Regions from separate parts of the Homo sapiens genome. Here region 1 is linked to region 2. Evidence: fine-mapped expression QTL. A gene starts in region 2. The other region holds a variant in brackets. All regions are shown on one strand. Distances are between the middles of the regions. Region 1 overlaps PIGG (phosphatidylinositol glycan anchor biosynthesis class G (EMM blood group)). Region 2 holds the start of PIGG (phosphatidylinositol glycan anchor biosynthesis class G (EMM blood group)).

Evidence for each region.
Region 1: its variant is fine-mapped to the expression of PIGG in whole blood (TOPMed, PIP above 0.99).

What each region holds. Positions count from the first base shown.
Region 1 is chr4:534,851-544,522 of GRCh38, forward strand. It overlaps PIGG (phosphatidylinositol glycan anchor biosynthesis class G (EMM blood group)), which reads left to right. Exons shown (of 13, transcript NM_001127178.3): 13 at 4,303-5,350. The coding sequence ends at 4,519. Among named protein-coding and RNA genes, the nearest start is that of TMEM271, 37 kb to the right of the region's middle. The variant G/T (reference allele first, on the strand shown) is at 3,969.
Region 2 is chr4:495,195-504,866 of GRCh38, forward strand. PIGG (phosphatidylinositol glycan anchor biosynthesis class G (EMM blood group)) reads left to right here and starts at 4,016. Exons shown (of 13, transcript NM_001127178.3): 1 at 4,016-4,295; 2 at 5,202-5,407. The coding sequence starts at 4,142. ZNF721 (zinc finger protein 721) reads right to left here and starts at 3,962. Exons shown (of 3, transcript NM_133474.4): 1 at 3,862-3,962. RefSeq lists enhancers at 3,248-4,113, 3,677-4,156, 4,114-4,977.

The DNA of each region.
Region 1 (9,672 bases), 40 kb after region 2:
AGAAGTTCCCCCCGGGGGACCCCAGATCAAGGGCGCAGCCCCCCATCCACATGCCCGTCTCCTGGCGGTTTTGTGCAGAAGTTCTCCCGGGGAAACCCAGATCAAGGGTGCAGCTCCCCATCCACACGCCCGTCTTCTCTGCAGCGTTCCCACCGCCGCACACTCTCTGCTTCCTCATCGTATGTTTCTTGCTCCCCCAAGAAAGGAGGCTTTGTGAGGCAGGGGCTTCACCCGCTCTGTTCACCATAGCAGCCTCAGTGCCTGGCCTGGCGGAGTCAGGTGCTGAGTGGAGTGTGGCGGGGGTGGGTGATTCTGTACCTCCCAACTTGGTCTGGCAGAGACCCCAGGGCCTGCAAAGTTATTCGACTCACATGTGCCTGGTTTTCCCATCTGTAAAACGGGAGTTGCTGGGAGCTCAATGGGGGACACTTGGAAGCGTTCACAGCCTTTGGAGGGGCTAGTGGCCCCTGCGGCATCTACTAGAGTGCCCCGTGCTCCACGCTTGTCCCTGCTGCCAGCCACAGTCACGAATCCCCGCAGCGCCTATGCATTTCTGCGTGTGCTGAAACCGCGCACCGCGGCCCGGCCTCCTCCCGGGCAGGCGAGCGTCTGGGACACTGACTGGACCAGCCTCCCGCACTTTCTGGGTGGCTTTGGGCAGGTCAGCCAGAGCTTTGCGTGTGTCCTGTGGTGACCGGAGGCCCCAGTCCTGCCGGGAGCCCCAGGGAGCGCGCTGTGGCCTCTCCGCTGAGCAGTGAGGCTGGAGGGCTCCTACGTCCTCCCATGACTGAACCGTCGCTCTCGCGGTGCTGACTGCTGAGCCCCCGTGCCAGCCCTCCCAGGACACTTGGAGGCTTCTCCTGCCGAGCTGCCGGCGACTCCACAGAGCATCTGCACGTTTCTGTGGTCCCGCTCCGCCCTCTGGCTTCTGCTCCACAGCCTCCTTCACCAGGTCATCCTCTCAGCTCCACGCAGGTCCTCTCCCCGCCTCACTCCCCTCCCCAGACCAGCTCCTGAGACCCAGGCCACAGGGACCCTTGGCCTTGCCTCCAGACCCAGATGCCCAGCCCCCTGTCGACATTCCGCAGAGGTGTCCTCGGGCTGACAGGACTGAGGAGCCCTTTACAGGACATGCGGGCAGGGCCCACGCACCCAGGCACGCACACCCGTGCCTGCCTTTGAGCTTTTCCCACCCTGAAAGGAGCCCCTCGCCGCTCACGTCCTGTGTTGAGGCTCTCACAGCATGAGTGCTTCGGAGCCAGAGGAACCGTCCACCATGGTGGAAGTGTTCGTGCCCCGCAGACTCGGCGGGCCCGGGCTGGACCCCTCAGTCGCTCACAGGTTTCCGTAAGGGGTCGGGGGAGCATTGGCCTTGCTTCAGCAGTGATAGGCGCGTGCCTTCCCACAGCGGACATGGAGCCTTTCCAAGGGGAGAATCGCTCCCTGGCCAGACTGCAAGCTTCCCGGGGACAGGAATGCCTGAGATCCACCTGCCTTTTCTTCAGGTGCCTGTGGACGCTTGACACGCCCACTTTGGGGCAGTCTGTGGACAGACCCCCGTAATTTACAGTCACCGCTGAGCTTGTCATCACAGCAGAAAGCTGAGGCTCTGCGGGCGGAAGCCACCAACAGACCAGCTTGGGAGACACCCACTGTGGCGGCGCTGTGTGGAGACGTCCTTCCAGACTTCGATTCTGCATAAAAACAAACATCTGCCACGAGACCCCTGCTCGGCGTCCGCCTGTCTCAGCAGCTGCCCTGGGACGTCTTTCTCTGACTTGGTTTTGAGGCCAGCCGCGTGCTCACACTGGCCTTACAGAAACAGGAGACGCCGTCCTCGGCCGTCTGGGGTGGGCTGTCAGCACGTCGTGTGGTCAGGTGTCAGGACAAGCGGGCGTGAGCGCGTGGAGGTGCATCTGCCTCTGCCCTGGAGAACGGATGTGCTACAGCTGTGCGCGGCGTGATCAAGCACCTGTTGGGTGGACGGCACACCTCCCAGTGGCCAGCTGGAGACGGAGGGCTGGAAGTACTTGCCCGGCTCCTCTCTCTGTAGGTTTGGTCTTCGGCCTTGCAGCTGCCCTGGTGCTTGCAGATTGCGGTTTGATGGACCAGGCACTTTTCATCTCTTACACAGCCAGGCACGTTTGTGTTTGGGAGGGAAAAAGACAAATATTAAGTGAGGTGAAAGCATTTTGATCAACTGGAGAGTATCATGATATTTTTCCTAGTCAAGAAGCATTTCTCCTTCATTTTATAGGGTTTTCTTCTTCCCTTTTAAAAGTTTAAAGCATCAAGTTTTACTCATGGTTTCTATTTTGTTTCAGTAGAGTAGGAAAACTATAACCAGGTCTAAATTGTAGACAGAGAAAATATGTTTCCAAAAGGTCAAAAACGTGGCCTTGAGTGGTTGGCGACCCTCTGTTCCAGGGGCTGGCACCCCGGGCTGCCTGCTCCCCTGCAGCGCAAATGGCTCTTTGCTAAAGTGGTGGGAACAGCAAGCCGCCATCTTCTAGGTGGGTAACGCTATAAAGTGTTAAACTGAAGTCAAGGTGGTGCCATGTCTAAGCCACAGCTTCCCCATGCGCTGTCTGGGTAGGATGGGGCCACGGCCCACTTAGCCACGAATCTTCCTGCCCAGTATGTTCACCTTTTCCTGGGTGTTGCTGTCACCAGGAGGTGTATTGAGGATACCTTGGGGTCCACCTCCCTGTGGGGTCCCCGGCCTGTGGGGCTGGATACCAAGTGGTGACCAGCGGTACGGGTTTGGGGGACCCGCCTAAGGAGCCAGGGCCTGGCAAGGAAAGCAGTGAAAGGACCAGAGGCACCGGCCACCCACCGGGAGATCCCAGGGTCTGAGTATTTTACTGGAGCACATGGCGGGCTGAGGTGAAGGAGTGTTTGGAGAAGCCAAGAGGAGGATGGGCCCCTCCAAGGCCTGAGATGGGGAGCCGGTGGGGGGCTGAGGTGAGGCTGTGGAGGGGCCAGAGACAGCCCCGTCCTTGGCCCTTCGTGGCTGTTGACACCCTTTCCTGAGCAGTGAGCACTGAAGCAGGAGCCACTTACAGGACACCCTCAAGTAATACCTGGTGGAGCTGCTGGGCTGACAGGACTGAGGAGCCCTTTACAGGACATGCATGTGGGGCCCAGACACACATACGTGCCGACAGGACTGAGGAGCCCTTTACAGGACATGCAGCGGGACCCACACACCCACACACACGTGCTGACAGGACCGAGGGGCCCTTTACAGGACATGCAGCGGGACCCACACACCCAGACACACACACGTGCCGACAGGACTGAGGATCTGGGGGCTGCCTCCGGGCCCTTTCTAACAGAACTTGATCAGAGGTCATGGATGAGGCATGGAAAGTGCCCAAATAATGTAATTTATCATTTTTCAATAATCACAGACTCAGGGAAGTTGCTTTGAGGAAGAGATTTATGTAGTGTGTTGGTGGTTTCAAAACTAGGGGGTACATTAACATACTTCGAGGGGTGGCTCTTATTCCGAGAATTTGCTCAGCAAACCCCGCTGGGCCAGTGTCCCCAGACCAGACAGTCCTCCACACCACAGCAGGGAGAAAAGCTCAGAACTTGTATTTATGTTTATTTGTATCTCACCCTTTTGTGATTTTCTATTCATCGTTTGTATTTTATAATGCATGTGATATAGTAGCACATGCATATATAATTTTTAAATAACTGCAAAGTCTGGGGGGTGCGTTTTTCAGAGCTGTTTTACAGATGACGGTGGCAGACAGTGGCTGAGCAGTTGGGGCTGCAGCTCATGTCCCCTCGGGCACCTCCGTGCCTTCTGGAGACTCAGACCTCTGCCCACCCCAGACCAACCACATCCAGATTTCTGTAGGGGGGGCTCCAGAGTGGCACTTCCAGCACATACTGTAGGTGATTTTTACATACAGTCAAGTTTCAGAAGCATTTCTGGAGAGCTCAAGGTGTGTGTG[G/T]GGGGGGACATGGTGGCCCTCACCCATCCTTCTGTTTGCTTCATTTTTCTTCATGAATTTGTCTCTTCCTGACATGTTACATATCTGGTTTCTCCTGCCTCCTTCACTAGAACACAGCCTCCAAGGGGGCAGGTTGGGTTTTCCCGTCTCCAGCGCATCTGGAGAGGCACCTGTCCCAGCACCATAGTGACTGGATGTGTGTGCAGAAGAAGGAACGCGGTGCCCTCTACTCCAAGGGCAAGAGCTACTGGAGTCTTTTTGAAAATAAAAGTGTTGTTACATGTGTGATATGTAAGTGGCATGTGCTAATACACATTTTCTTTCTTATTAACAGTGGTTCAGCACTGAGTCATGCTTGCTTCTGCTACGCACTGATTTGTTCTATTCCAGTTTTCACGTACATCGTTTTGGTGACATCTCTGCGTTATCATTTATTTATATGGAGTGTATTTTCTCCAAAACTTCTCTACGAGGGAATGCACCTGCTCATTACAGCTGCTGTCTGTGTATTCTTCACGGCAATGGATCAAACCAGACTCACACAGTCTTAGACTAAGCTGAACACTGGAAAAATAATACATGCTTAAAGTCTGCTGTTATTCTAAAATGAAAGATATGAATTCAACAAAGTTGATGGATAACTTTCTTTGACTGCTCTACCTGAATTTAGACTAAGCAGTAAATAGTTTAATAAAAGATCACTTTAATATACAGTTTGTATCATATTTTCCCCCATTGACAATCACTCTAGAAGCTTCTGAACTTTTAATTTCCTCTGAATAAGCTATGGTGTGACCCAAATATGTGTGTTTAAATCAATGAATGAAAAGGTTCTGGACTTTGTTAGAGTCCAGGAGCTCTGTGGGAGGAGGCACCCAGATTACCTTAGGGAGCACAGAGCTCTTAGAATCCTACAAACCACTGAGGGCCCCAAGGCGCTTTGGTTTATGAGGGTTACATGTATCAGTGTTTATGGCATTTGAGATGAAAACTAAGATAAAAAAGTATTCATTTATAAGGAATCTATTGCATATTAATGAAACACTTGAAGGAAAAGTAACTATATTTTCCAAAACAAAAAAATTCAGTGAGACCCAGCACTTTGGGAGGCCAGAGTGGGGGTATCACTTGAGCCCAGGTGTTTGAGATCAGCCTGGGAAACATAGTGAGACCCTCATCTCTCCAAAAACTTCAAAAAATTAGCTGGGCGTGATGGCACACACCTGTGGTCCCAGCTACTCAGGTGGCTGAGGAAAGAGTATTGTTTCAGCCGAGTTCAAGGCTGCAGTGAGCCATGATTGTACCACTGTACTCCAGCCAGGACAACAGAGTGAGACTCTTGTCTTTAAAATGAAAAAATAAATGTTTAATGAGAAAAGTGATAATGTTTTACATTTTTACAAACCTCTTTAATGCCTGGCCTAATTGAAGCTAGTTGGATTTTGTGTTTGACCTGTTGTGATATGTGTGTTTGGTTACAATATAAGAAGAAAATCGGCTGGGCAGAGTGGCTCACACCTGTAATCTCAGCACTTTGGGAGGCTGAGGCGGGGGCAGATCACCTGAGGTCAGGAGTTCAAGACCAGCCTGGCCAACATGGTGAAACCCTGTCTCTACAAAAATACAAAAATTAGCCAGGCATGATGACAGGTGCCTGTAATCCCAGCTACTTGGGAGGCTGAGGTGGAAGAATCGCTTGAACCAGGGAGGCAGAGGTTGCAGTGAGACAAGATTGTGCCATTGCACTCCAGCCTGGGTGACAGAGTGAGACTCCATCTCAAAAAATAATAATTATTATATATATATGAAGAAAATCCAGCCTCAGATCAGTAGTTGGAAAGAGGAGGCATATTTTAATGTCCTTTTTCTGATTATTGTGGATGTTCTTTTTTGATACCAACACCAAATCTTTTTTGATGCCAACACCAAAACTCAACAAATGTTAGTTTGCTGAAGGTTAGTTGGACAAAAAGAAAAGAAACGAGTGCATATAAAAACTGGTGAAATGCTACTGAGGGCTGTATTCGAATTAATAGAATTGTGCCCACATCATTTTCCTGGTATTTATCTGGTTGTGTAAGATACCATCATTGGGGGGAGGTGGGTGAAGGATATGTAGAACTCTCTATACTATTTTTGCAACTTCTTGTGAGTCTTCAACTATTTCAAAACAAAAGTTATTTTGAAAAAGAAAAGGTTAGCTGCCATGTGGAATCTGAAATCATATCAATGAACTTTCATGTCCTGATGCATTACGACACATTGACCTGTCTTGCACCCTGAATGGAACTTTTACCCAGATGTGATTCTTAACATCTGCATTGTTGTTTGGAAAATAACAGTTCACTGGATGATAGAAATTTCCAAATGTTGTTCATTATTCCATACCAAAATCACTTATTTATATCACAACCGAGCTCATCAGAAAAGTCTTTAAAGAGTGAATGGTGGCTCACGCTTGTAATCCCAGCACTTTGGGAGGTTGGGGAAGCAGGAGGATCGCTTGAAGCCTGGAGTTTGTGACCAGCCTGGGCAATGTAGTGAGACCCCATCTCTAAAAAAAAAATTTGAAAATTAGCCAGGTGTAGTGGTATGTGCCTGTAGTCCCAACTACTCAGGAGGCTGAGGCAGGAGGACCACTTGAGCCCAAGAGTTCAAGGCTGCAGTGAGTTAGGATTGCACCGTTGCACTCCAGCCTGGGCAACAGAGCCAGGGCCCATCTCTAAAAAAATAAAAATGTGAAGAAAAAAAATCTCACCATCCAGAAGAAACAGTCACTAACAGTTAGTGAATACAGTTCACTAAATGGAAGAAGCAGGGAGGATGCATAGATGCATACATGAAAATCATACTATATATTTATAAATATTTTATATAAATATATATACAAATAATATATAAATATATATACAGATAATATTTATATAAATATATATGCAAATATATAAATATGTTCATGCAAATAATATTTTATATAAATATATGCAAATAATATTTTGTATAAATATGTATGCAAATAATATTTTATATAAATATATATGCAAATATTTTATATAAATATATGCAAATAATATTTTATATAAATATATTTATGCAAATATTTATATAAATGTATATACAAATAATATATAAATATATATTTATGCAAATATTTATATAAATATTTATACAAATAATATTTTATATAAATATATATTTATACAAATTATATATAAATATTATATATAACTTTTTAATCCAAAGTAGTTATATAAGTTTTTAATTTAACAGGAAAAGTGAAACCAAAGAAAAGGCTGAATTTTGAATAAATGTTTCTTCACTACAAGAAATATACAATATTCTTTTAAAATTAATTTCTTATAACATCTATTAAGAGAGCTGGTAGCTAACAGAGAAAGGGCAGCTTCTCAGGCAGAGGATACACAAAGCCTTGTTTCAATTGGAAGGCTGATTGTCCACATCAAAGAGTTTCTGCCTCTTCATATCTGTAACTATGGAATATTGATAGGACAATGCAATGACAAGATTGATACTGTTTTAAAGTATTGTTTATGCTATACTTTAATTCATTTATCCTCAGTGGAGCCCTGTGACCAAGTGGATTTTTTTTGTAACACCAATAACTTGATCAACTTTGACAATACAATCAAAAGATGTTTGGAGGGGAAAACACTAGAGGGATCATTACATGGTAAAGTGATTTTTCATCCATTCGGCCACTCTATGTCTTTTGATTGGAAAGTTCAATCCATTTACATTCATTATTATTTATAAGTAAGGATTTACTCCTGCCATATTACTTGTTTTCTGGTTGTTTTGTGGCCTTCTTTCTTGCCTTCCTGTCTTCCTTTAGTGAAGGTGATTTTCTCTGGTGATATTATTTAGTTTCTCACTTTTTATTTTTTGTGTATCCATTGTATGTTTTCTGGTTTGAGGCTACCATGAGGCTTGCAGATACTATCTTATAACCCATTATTTTAAGCTGGTCACAAGTTAGCACTGTTTGCATAAACACACAAAAAGACAACAATAAAAAACTCTAGTTTTTATTAGTCCCCTTAACGAAATTAGAAAACACCAAGCAGAAATTCTGGAGCTGCCTTTGTCCCCCTTAACTTTGTCCCCCTGCTTTTTAGCTTTTTGTTGTTTCTATTTATATGTTAATTGTACTGTCTATGTCTTGAAAAATTATTTTTTATTGGTTCATTGTTTAGTCTTTCTGCTTAGGATAAGGGTATTACACACCACAGTGGGAGTGTTATGATATTCTGTGTTTTTCTATGTACTTACTATCACCAGTGAGTTTTGTACCTTCAAAGTGATTACTTATTGCTTATTGACACCCTTTTCTTTCTGACTGAAATAGTCCCTTCAGCATTTCTTATAGTACAGGTCTAGTGTTGATGAAATCCCTCAGCTTTTGTCGGGGAAAGTTTATTTTTCCTCCATGTTTGAAGGATATTTTCACCAGATATACTATTCTAGGGTAAAACTTTTTTTCTTTCAGCACTTTAAGTATGTCATGCCACTCTCCTGGTCTGTAAGGTTTCCACTGAAAAGTCTGCTACCAGACATATTGGAGTTCCATTATAGGATATTTGTTTATTTTGTCTTGCTGCTTTTAGGATGCTTTCTTTATCCTTGATCTTTGGGAGTTTGATTATTAAATGCCTTGAGGTAGTCTTCTTTGGATTAAATCTGCTTGGTGTTCTATAGCCTGCTGGTACTTGGATATTGATATATTTCTCCATGTTTGGGAAGTTCTCTGTTATTATCCCTTTGAATAAACTTTCTGCCCCTGTCTGTACCTCCTCTTAAAGGCCAATAACTCTTAGATTTGCCCATTTGAGGCTATTTTCTAGACCCTGTAGACATGCTTCATTTTTTTTTATTCTTTTTTCTTTTGTCTCCCCTGACCGTGTATTTTCAAATAGCATGTCTTCAAGTTTATTAATTCTTCCTTCTTCTTGATCAGGTCTGTTATTAAAGGACTCTGATGCATTCTTCAGTATGCCAGTTGCATTTTTGAGCTCCAGAGTCTCTGCTTGAATCTTTTTAATTATTTCAATCTCTATGTTAAATTGATCTGATAGAATGCTGAATTCCTTCTCTGTGTCATCTTAAATTCATTGAGTTTCCTCAGCTATTTTGAATTCTTTGTCGGGAAGGTGACATATCTCGTTTCTCCATGATTGCTTCCTGGTGCCTTATTTAGGTCGTTTGGTGAGGTCCTGTTTTCCTGGATGGTATTGATGCTAGTAAAGACCACAGTTACTTTTGCACTAACCACAGTTACTTTTGTACTAACCTAGTAAAGACCACAGTTACTTTTGCACTAACCTAGTAGATGTTCTTCAGTGTCTGGCCATTGAAGAGGTAGACATTTATTATAGTCTTCACTGTCTGAGCTTGTTTGTACCCCTCCTTTGGAAGGCTTCCAGGTATCTGAAAGGACTTGGTGTTGTGATCTATGCTCTATCTGCCTTAGGGAGCACCCCAAGCCCAGTAACACTGTGCACCACCTTGATGGTCTTGAATAAGATCCAGGAGAACTCTCTGGATTACCCGGCAGAAGCTCTTGTTTTCTTCCCTTACTTTCTTCCAAACAAATGGAGTCTCTCTGTCCTGAGCCACCTAAAGCTGGGGTGGAGTGACACAAGCACCCCTGTGGCCACATCACTGACGGCACTGGGTCAGACCTGAA
Region 2 (9,672 bases):
AACAAAGACATTTTTGTGTGTCTAAACTACATACTTCCTTAAAAACTCAAGAGCAGCCTGTTGCAGTAACTATTTTAGTCAAAAAATCAGGTGAAAACAGAATTCAGTCAACTGAACAAAAAAAAAAACTTTTGCTCAAAAAAAAAAAAAAAAAGACAAGGTCCTAGGAGAGAAAAACAAAAACCAAAAACATGAAACCTTCTAAATATAAACATGCACACATACACACCCAATTCTTGGATGTTAGCCTTTAAAATTGACTTTTTTTTTTTTTTTGAGATGGAATCTCTCGATCAGGGGTAGCTTTGCCACAGATTTCAGCAATGGATAAATTGAGTGTGAGATCTCAGGTGCAGACAGAGAAGGAAAAATAATCTTTGTGTGGCAAGTTTTAGAGGAAGTTTGCCATTTCTTCTTTTTTTTTTGAGACGGAATCTCACTCTGTTACCAGGCTGGCGTGCAGTGACGTGTGATCTCGGCTCACTGCAACCTCCACCTCCCGGGTTCATACCATTCTCCTGCCTCAGCCCCCCAAGTAACTGGGATTACAGGTGCCCGCCACCACGCCCAGCTAATTTTTTGTATTTTTAGTGGAGACGGGGTTTCACCATGTTGGCCAGGATGGTCTTGATCTCTTGACCTCATGATCTGCCCACCTCGGCCTCCCAAAATGCTGGGATTACAGGCGTGAGCCACTGAGCATGGCCAAATTAAGCTGACTTTTAACCATTGAGCTCCTTTAAAAAAATCTTTTTAAATCTCATTACCATATTTCGGCCGGACAGAATGCTACTTTCAGAAATACAGCCATTGCTCTTTCGGTTTGGTCTGGCTGGCAAAAAGGTGGCGTTGTTATGTAAATAAAATCCCTTTAGCAGTGAAAATTTAAAAATCTTTTCTCTGTTTTTTCCTTTTGCTGGCCGTTTTCCTCCCCCAACCATACCGCCTTTTTTGTGTGTGGGGGGTAGACGGTTGGGTATTTAGCCGCTTCAGAGGCCTTGTTCCCATAATTTAGAGTTCCCCTTCGGATTTCGCCAAGTCAGAATGTGTGTCGGACCCAAAACGTGCTGCTTGCAGACCTAGCTTTTCAGGGCTGTTACCCCCCGAACTGGTTGGGTTCACCCGTGTGGTGGCCACCTGGCACAGTGTCAGAGGCTCAAGGTGCGGGAGGGGTCACCTCCTTATATGCACCTGCCAGCTGAGATTAGACTCTAAGTATGTTCTTCTGGGGGGGAAACCTATTTAGACCCACTGCATGTCTTAGGCAGCATTCCTCCCAGACACCCTCACGTGATTCTCAGTTGTCTGAGAATGCCCCGAAAAGCTGAGGGGAGGCAGGTGCTCTTATTTCTTCAGAGGGGAAGATTCTACACTCATGAGCTAGAGGGTTTGGAGTTGGTCAAATCCGATAAGGGAAAGGACCAAAACACACAAAAAAAACCCCAACAAGACAGAAACAAACAACAGAACAGGTAAGCAAAACTAACAATGATCACACAAAATACATGACTTCTTTTTTTTTTTTTTTTTTTTTTTTTGAGACGGAGTCTCGCTGTCGCCCAGGTTGGAGTGCAGTGGCGCGATCTCGGCTCACTGCAGGCTCCGCCTCCCGGGTTCACGCCATTCTCCTGCCTCAGCCTTTTGAGTAGCTGGGACTACAGGTGCCCGCCACCGCGCCCGGCTAATTTTTTGTATTTTTAGTAGAGATGGGGTTTCACCGTGTTAGCCAGGATGGTCTCGATCTCCTGACCTCGTGATCCGCCCACCTCGGCCTCCCAAAGTGCTGGGATTACAGGCGTGAGCCACCGCGCCCAGCCTATGACTTCTGAACGCTCTAAGTGTAAGCAGAAATAAACACCAGCTGGTTGTTAATGTTATCTTTAGTCATTTAAAAAGAATTTGCAAGACAAAATTCCAAATCAATTTTCTTACCTAGTGATGGGGCTCAAGCTGAAGACGGCTATCTGTCGATGCAGAAGCAGGCAGGCTTGCCTTCCTTGATGAAGCGAGTGGGAACTCCCAAAAAAGGAGTTTTTTAACAGCAAATAAACCTCAGACCCCCCACCGAAAAACGTTGGAAGATCAGGGATCCCTGGAGGAACAAGGTCCCAGATTTCAGCAATCATCCTACCAGTTTGGGCAATAAGGTGCCAAGCCAATACCGAGGATCAATAGGCGAACTGCTGCAGGCCGGGTTACCTTCACTGAGGATCTCTCAGTGCTTATCAATGTCAATCGAGAAAAATGACAAGTCTTAATCATTTCAGGAGGCTTATTTCCCAAAGTTAAGGACGCCCATGACACAGCCTCCGGAGATCCTGACGACGTGGGTCCAAGGTGGTCGGGGCACAGCTTGGTTGTATTCATTTTAGGGAGTCACGAGATATCAATCATATGTATAATAACAGGCCGGACAGGGCGCGGTGTCTCACGCCTGTAATCCCAGCTCTTTGGGAGACAGAGGCGGGCGGATCACGAGGTCAGGAGATTGAGACCATCCTGGCTAACATGGTGAAACCCGTCACTACTAAAAAATACAAAAAAAAAAAAAAAATTTGACGGGCGTGGCGGCGGGCGCCTGTAGTCCCAGCTACACGGGAGGCTGCGGTAGGAAAATGGCGTGAACCCGGGAGGCGGAGCTTGCAGTGAGCGGAGATGGTGCCACTGCACTCCAGGCTGGGCGACAGAGCGAGACTCCGTCTCAAAAACAAACCAACAAAAAAAAAACAGGCCGGGCGCGGTGGCTCATGCCTGTAAATCCCAGCACTCTGGGAGGCCGAGGCGGGCGGATCACGAGGTCAGGAGTTCAAGAACAGCCTGACCAACATGGTGAAACCCCGTCTCAACTAAAAATACAAAAATTAGCCGTGCGTGGTGGCACGCACCTGTAATCCCAGCTACTCAGGAGGCTGAGGCAGGAGAATTGCTTGAACCCGGGAGGCAGAGGTTGCAGTGATCTGAGATCACGCCACTGCATTCCAGCCTGGGCGACAGAGTGAGATTTCATCTGAAAAGAAAAAGAAAAAAAAAAAAAAAAAAAAAAAAAGAAGGACATTGGTTCTGTCCAGAAAGGCGGGGGCAACTTGGAACAGGGAGGGGGCTTCCAGGTCACAGGTAGGTGACAGACAAATGGTTGCAGTTTCTGGGTTTCTGATAAGCCTCTCCAAAGGAGGCTATCAATATGCATTTATCTCAGTGAGCAGAGGAATGACTTTGAATAGAATGGGAGGCAGGTTTGTCCTGAGCAGTTCCGAGCTTGTCTTTTCCCTTAGTTTAGTAATTTTGGGGCCCCAAGATTTTCCTTTCAGAAAAAAGAAAATGTGGTATATATACACAATGGAGTACTATTCAGCTCTAATAAAAGAATGAAACCCTATCATTTGCCACAACACGGATAAACCTGAGGATATCATGTAAGCAAAATAAGACACAGAAAGACAAATACCTCATGATCTCACTCATGTGGCATCTTTAAAACGAAGTTAATCATTAAGATATTTACCAGTTGTCTGAGGTATTGGGTTGAATTTTCTTTTTTTTTTTTTTTTTGAGACGCAGTCTCGCTCTGTTGCCAGGCAGAAGTGCAGTGGCGCGATCTCGGCTCACTGCAACCTCCGCCTCCCAGGTTCAAGCGATTCTCCTGCCTCGGCCTCCCGAGTAGCTGGGACGACAGGCACCCGCCATCACGCCCCGCTAATTTTTTGTATTTTTAGTTGAGACGGGGTTTCACCATGTTGGCCAGGATAGTCTCGATCTCCTGACCTCGTGATCCGCCCGCCTCGGCCTCCCAAAGTACTGGGATTAAAGGCGTGAGCCACTGCACCCTGCCTTCCAAATTAAAAACTTTTTAAAACCTCGTACCTCGCCGTGGGCGGCGACCGTCGCGGACTCGCCGGGAAGACGGCCCCACGGAGCCGGGAACACCGCCCGCTGTTCGTATGTCCGAGGTGACGCCCCGCTGTGGCGGGCTGGCGGAAGTGACGCGCTGCTGTGGCGCGCCGGCGGACGTGACGCCACTGTCGCTGCGACGATAAGGCCTGGCGTTATTGCTTAGAGGCGGCTACCTGGAGCCGGAAGCGCGGCTGCAGCAGGGCGAGGCTCCAGGTGGGGTCGGTTCCGCATCCAGCCTAGCGTGTCCACGATGCGGCTGGGCTCCGGGACTTTCGCTACCTGTTGCGTAGCGATCGAGGTGCTAGGGATCGCGGTCTTCCTTCGGGGATTCTTCCCGGCTCCCGTTCGTTCCTCTGCCAGAGCGGAACACGGAGCGGAGCCCCCAGCGCCCGAACCCTCGGCTGGTACGGACCCCTCCCCGGCGTCTCCGCTCCCCTGACCCCACATCCCCTAGAAGACCTTTTTTCTGAGCCTCGCTGCTCGGATTTCTTCTCGGCGCTCCCCGGTGGTCTCTTCCATTATGGTCCCCACCTCAGAAATTTTTTTTAACCGCTCCAGCGTCTCTTTTCTGTATTCTTACAACTTTGTGGCAACCACCTCTACTGGCCCCACTTCGACCTTCCTTCCTGATCACCACAAAGTAAGCTGTGTCCATACCTGGGATCCAGCCTCTCCACTTCTACTCGTCCAGAGCTCCCGCCCCTTTCCTGAGCAGCCTTTGGGTCACTCCCCGTTATAGGCGCCCTTTTTGCCCCCTAGCACACAACAGATAAGACCCCTGCCGATCCCCTCGCGTTTTGGTCTCTTATATTCCTCCAAGATGTTTTCCCTGCCTAGGGGCTAAGGCCTCTCTGCGTTAGGCCTCTTCCTAGGCTTCACCTACCCAGCCATATACAGCAAGTAAAGGCGCCCTGGTTCTGGACCACTTGCACACATCGCCAGCCGCTGACCATGTAAACGCAGTATGTAAACGCCCAGCCATCCCGTAGCTGCAGCTCTGCGTTTTAGGTCAAGCTCCCTAAATGTCCCATTCCAGGACCCTTACGTAGGGATTCTCCTACCCCAGTACTCTTCACCATACTGAGGATAATTCACTGCTTGCTACTGTGGGTCCCTAAGATTACTCCTGTTAACCCCCGTCCTTTCCCCCCAGCACTACCTACCAAGTACAAGTCGCCTCCTTTTGGGTTGGGTTATGTAGATATCGCAGGGTATGTGCTGGAGAAGTAGGTAGAAGCTAGATTGTGAAGGTGCTTGATGCTAAGGAAAGTTTAGAGTTCAATTTCCTTTTTTTTCTTTCAAACACTTAGGAGCCAGTTCTAACTGGACCACGCTGCCACCACCTCTCTTCAGTAAAGTTGTTATTGTTCTGATAGATGCCTTGAGAGATGATTTTGTGTTTGGGTCAAAGGGTGTGAAATTTATGCCCTACACAACTTACCTTGTGGAAAAAGGAGCATCTCACAGTTTTGTGGCTGAAGCAAAGCCACCTACAGTTACTATGCCTCGAATCAAGGTAAGTTTGCCTTAATGTTTTATGAATCATGGTTTGGCTGTTTTGAAGATTTAGAGGGGGTCTCTGTAGTCTTTCGCTTGGAGTTGCAATTTTAAGAAAGTGGAAATTTTGTGCTGTCAGTTGGCTGGGGCAATAGAATGTTGAAGGAGCCTCACACGGGATGGAACTGAGACCCATCATTTGTGCCCCATGTCAAGTAGCCAAAGCTCATGCTTCATGGCAAATATAAAAGATTTAGAGCAAGATCATCCAGGCTAACCTACCCCAAGATATGCCATTCTTGGTGACCTGCTTTCTTCTTTAATCGTCACTGGGTCATTTACAATCTTAGAAGGAGCCTTTAGAGTTAATCTAGTTCAGTCTCTAGACTTTATAGATAGGAAAGCAAACTCAGATAAGTTAAATGTGACTTCTCCAAAATTATCCACCAGTATACATAATGATCAAATCAGTATGTTCCGGCCTCAACAATTACCACTGTTTCCACCATATCCTTCAGGTGTCCAGCCTACTGACAGCAGCTTTGAAGTACATAGTGCATTTCCCAAGAACCGTGGGTAAAGAAAAAAGTAAGCCTTTATTGATTGGCTCAAAACTTTTGAGCAACGACTATGTGGTGATACTTCAATGGGTATGCAATTGGGGAAAAAATAGTATCTCTGCCTTCATGTAGCTTTTAGTCTTTAGATATACAGCCACTCAACAAAGGAGCATATGAAAACATGCAGTTGTAAAGTGTGGTTAATGCATGATGAGAAAGAACAGGATGTGATGATTAGTGGGTGAGAAAGCCTGGCTGAGGAAATTGCATTTAAACTGAGACTGGAAGGATGAATAAAGGTGGGGACAGAAAGGAGCAGAGGGGTTGAAGTGTGTGAGTGTATCGCATGTGAGCGTGGCATAAAGTCTCTGACGGAGCCTTAGCTGTGTTGTTGATCATGTGAAACATTATTTGGTGAGAAGGAGCTACTTATTGATTTAAGGCTTGGGGGCAGCCCCATTTGCAGATGCTTGGCAGATGTTCACTGGATGAAAGCAGTCTGAGACTGAAGGAAGCACAGTGCCATATCACTCACTGACTTTTTCCTTGAATTTCTTACTCTCTCTGCCGCATTTCAATGTGATGTGACTTCCTTCAGCAATATTTATTGAGCATCTACTGTGTGCCACACTGTTCCAGACAGGAGGGAGGCAGTGAAGAACAAGACAGCATTGTCCTCATGGAGCTTACTTTCTAATTGGAGGGATAGAAAATCGGTAAAATATGAATCAATGAAGATGGTTTCAGACAGTGACAACTGCTCTGGAAGGAATGGAGAGGGAGGTGAGAGAGAATGAAGGGGAGAGGGGCATGCCCGGCACCTTTGAACACAGCACTCAGAGTTTTTGCCGTCCTGCTGAAACTAGCTGTGGGAATCTGGAAGAAAGACATCCAGCCCCTGATTTTCAGGAACACCGGTTTCTTTATCTGCTCTATCAGAAGTGTGGAAGGAACCCTTTTCTCCTTTTCTTTTAAGATTTAACAGGCAGATTTGAGAAAATGTATAAGTGATTGTGCAGGTTCTAGGTTCTATTCAGACCAGTCCGTTGGCACTGTGGTTCTTGGGGCCTCTGTCTCCAGCTTATTGGTTTTATTTCACCTTTGCTGGGGAGCCTCACCCCAGAGCTAGTGTTTTGTTTCATTTTCAGTCCTTTGAGGATTCTTGCTCCTTATTTCCCCATCAGGGAGGAGCTAGAACAGAAAGCCCATACTGGAGTTAGGATTGTACAGCTCTGGAGTTTGGTAGGTTGGGGTTGGGCAGTGTTGGTTGAGGAAAGTGTCCCCTGCCCTGCCTCCAGTCTGAGAAAGGGCTCAGAGCATCTCCTGGTGTTGATACATTTGTAACCAGACGCCAACCCTGACATGTCCAGTGTGCTTTCACTTGCTAAGACCCTGCAGCAGCTTTGTTTTAAAGTCATGTAACTCATTTTTGAATGCCTTTTCTTTCTTAAAGAACTTTCTGGTCATAATAATAGCTGGCATTGATTGACAGACCTGAGCTTTCCCTTAGATTTCTTAGGACTGTAAATGCAGCCCACTCGCTGTCTGCACGCTTTCTGGGATGAGGGGATGCCAAGTAGTCCCTACCCTCTTTAAAAATATCGGTGGGAACCCAAGCTAGTGTGAGGATGAGGGAGGTGCCTTGTAAAAGCCACAAAAGAAGGGATGAAAACAGAAAACTTTTATATTGTCAAATGTTGTAAACAAAGTCAACAACATGATAAACTGAAGAAATTATTGACAGTGGACATGGCATACAAGATGTTAAGTCCATGATGTATAAAGAGGTTCGGATCAAGGAGGGACAGTCCTATGGAAACTGGGCCGAGTATATAACGGAATCCACCAAGGAAGAAAGCGGAATGGCCAATAAGCATATGCAGAGATTCTTGACTAGTAATCAGAGCAGGGCAAACAAAACAACCCATATGCCAGTTTTTGTTTATCATATTGTAAAAATTTAAAGATTGATGATCTCTACCCCGCACAAGAAACGAGGTGAACAGGTGCTCTTGAAATACTGTGGATGTGAATACAGGTTGACTGAGCTGGTATCTCCACTGCCACCACCGTCGTCCAGGCTGCTGTGGGCTCCAGCCTGAACTGTTATAAATGCCCTAGCACCTTTTCTTGGCCCAAATCACTTCTGGACACAAATCAGACCCTGCTACACTACTCTTTAAAACCCTTCAGTAGTTTACGCTCTGCCCAGTTTGAACACTGAACCCCATCACCCGTCCCTCAAGGCTCTGCGTGGCCTCACTCCCGTTTACCTCTTCATCCTCATATAGGCCCCCTTCCGTGTTCCCTTGCCCTTCATCCACACAGGTCACACGCAGCTCATTTCCTCCCGGGTGCTGCTGTCTTTTCTGCCTGGAGCCTTTGCAGTTTGCAGGTGTTTTACTCTGGAAAGTCCCACCTCACCTCCACAACTTTTCAACCTTCAGGTCTCAGCTCAAGTGGCACTTCCATAGGAAGCTGTTTAAAATAAATGCCCAGTAAAATGGTCTTGGTTAAATACGTTATTGTACAGCTACACACTGGAATGCTCTGTAGCTGTTTGGAAAAAAGATAAAATGCTTGTGTTTTCCCTAGGTAAAGATGTTCATGATGTGTTATTAATTGAAGAAGTTTGAGAGTAATTTGTATAGTTTGCTACCATTTTGGTAAAAAATGTGTACCTTCATATATTTGTGATTTTATACACACACACACACACACACACACACACACACACACACACAGAAAAGAGTCCAAAAGGATACTCACCAAGAGTAATTGGCTGCCTTTTAAGGAGTACAATTTTGGGGTGAGGTTCACATTTTAAAAAATAACTATTGAAATATAATTTTTATACAATTACATTTTTGCATGTACAGCATTTAACAAATGTGTGTATCCAGGCAAACCCCACCTCAGCTCAATTCTGGCCCCACCCTAGGAATGTTGGTGGCTGTTAGGGTTATTTTGGTTGTTTGTATAGTGAGTTCCTGCAGTCTGTCTCCCCGGGAGCGTGCGGCAACTGATGTTTTGACTTAGGTCTTTTGGTTCTTTTGGTTTTTAAGTTCTTGTTTTTATCTTTAAGCCTGTCTTCCTGAGTGCTGGCCCTGGCTCCGCATAGCTTAGTGGTCAGCCACTGATTGGTCAGAGGTTGTGCTTCAGCACCCCTGATGTGTTTTCATAACCTCCCTGGGTGTGGGGCTTCTCAGTGGCTGCTGCAGCGTGGAGCTGGAAAGGAGGGAAGTGGGAGCCGCCCTGTGTAGAAACACCATGGGCACTTGCTGTTCTTACTGAGATTCCGTGTTTTTTCTTAAATAAGCACTTCTCAATCTGTTCTATAATTTTGGTGAATTTCCAAAGTACTAAAATGGTTGCTTTTGACAGTTTCATCCAGTTTTATTATTGCTCCTGGGAGAGAGATTTTGCCGAGCTCCTCCCTGTGGCATTCCAGAAGTCTGGATAATTCATACTTGCATTTATTTATCGTTAAAGATGTCTCGGTAAAATTATTTCACCTGCTGATGTTACCCAGGTTCCCGTTTATTTTCATTGCACAGGTTCCAGGATGCCAGTGCTGGCTGGGGTGGCTGTATAACTCTAAATCACAGAGATCTGTTACCCATTACCATGGCCTCTTAGGTTCTATGCTAAACTCAGGGAAATTCTTGACTCAATTCTATTATCAGAAGGGTATAAGGGCAAGTCACCTCCCACCCCTCCCAGA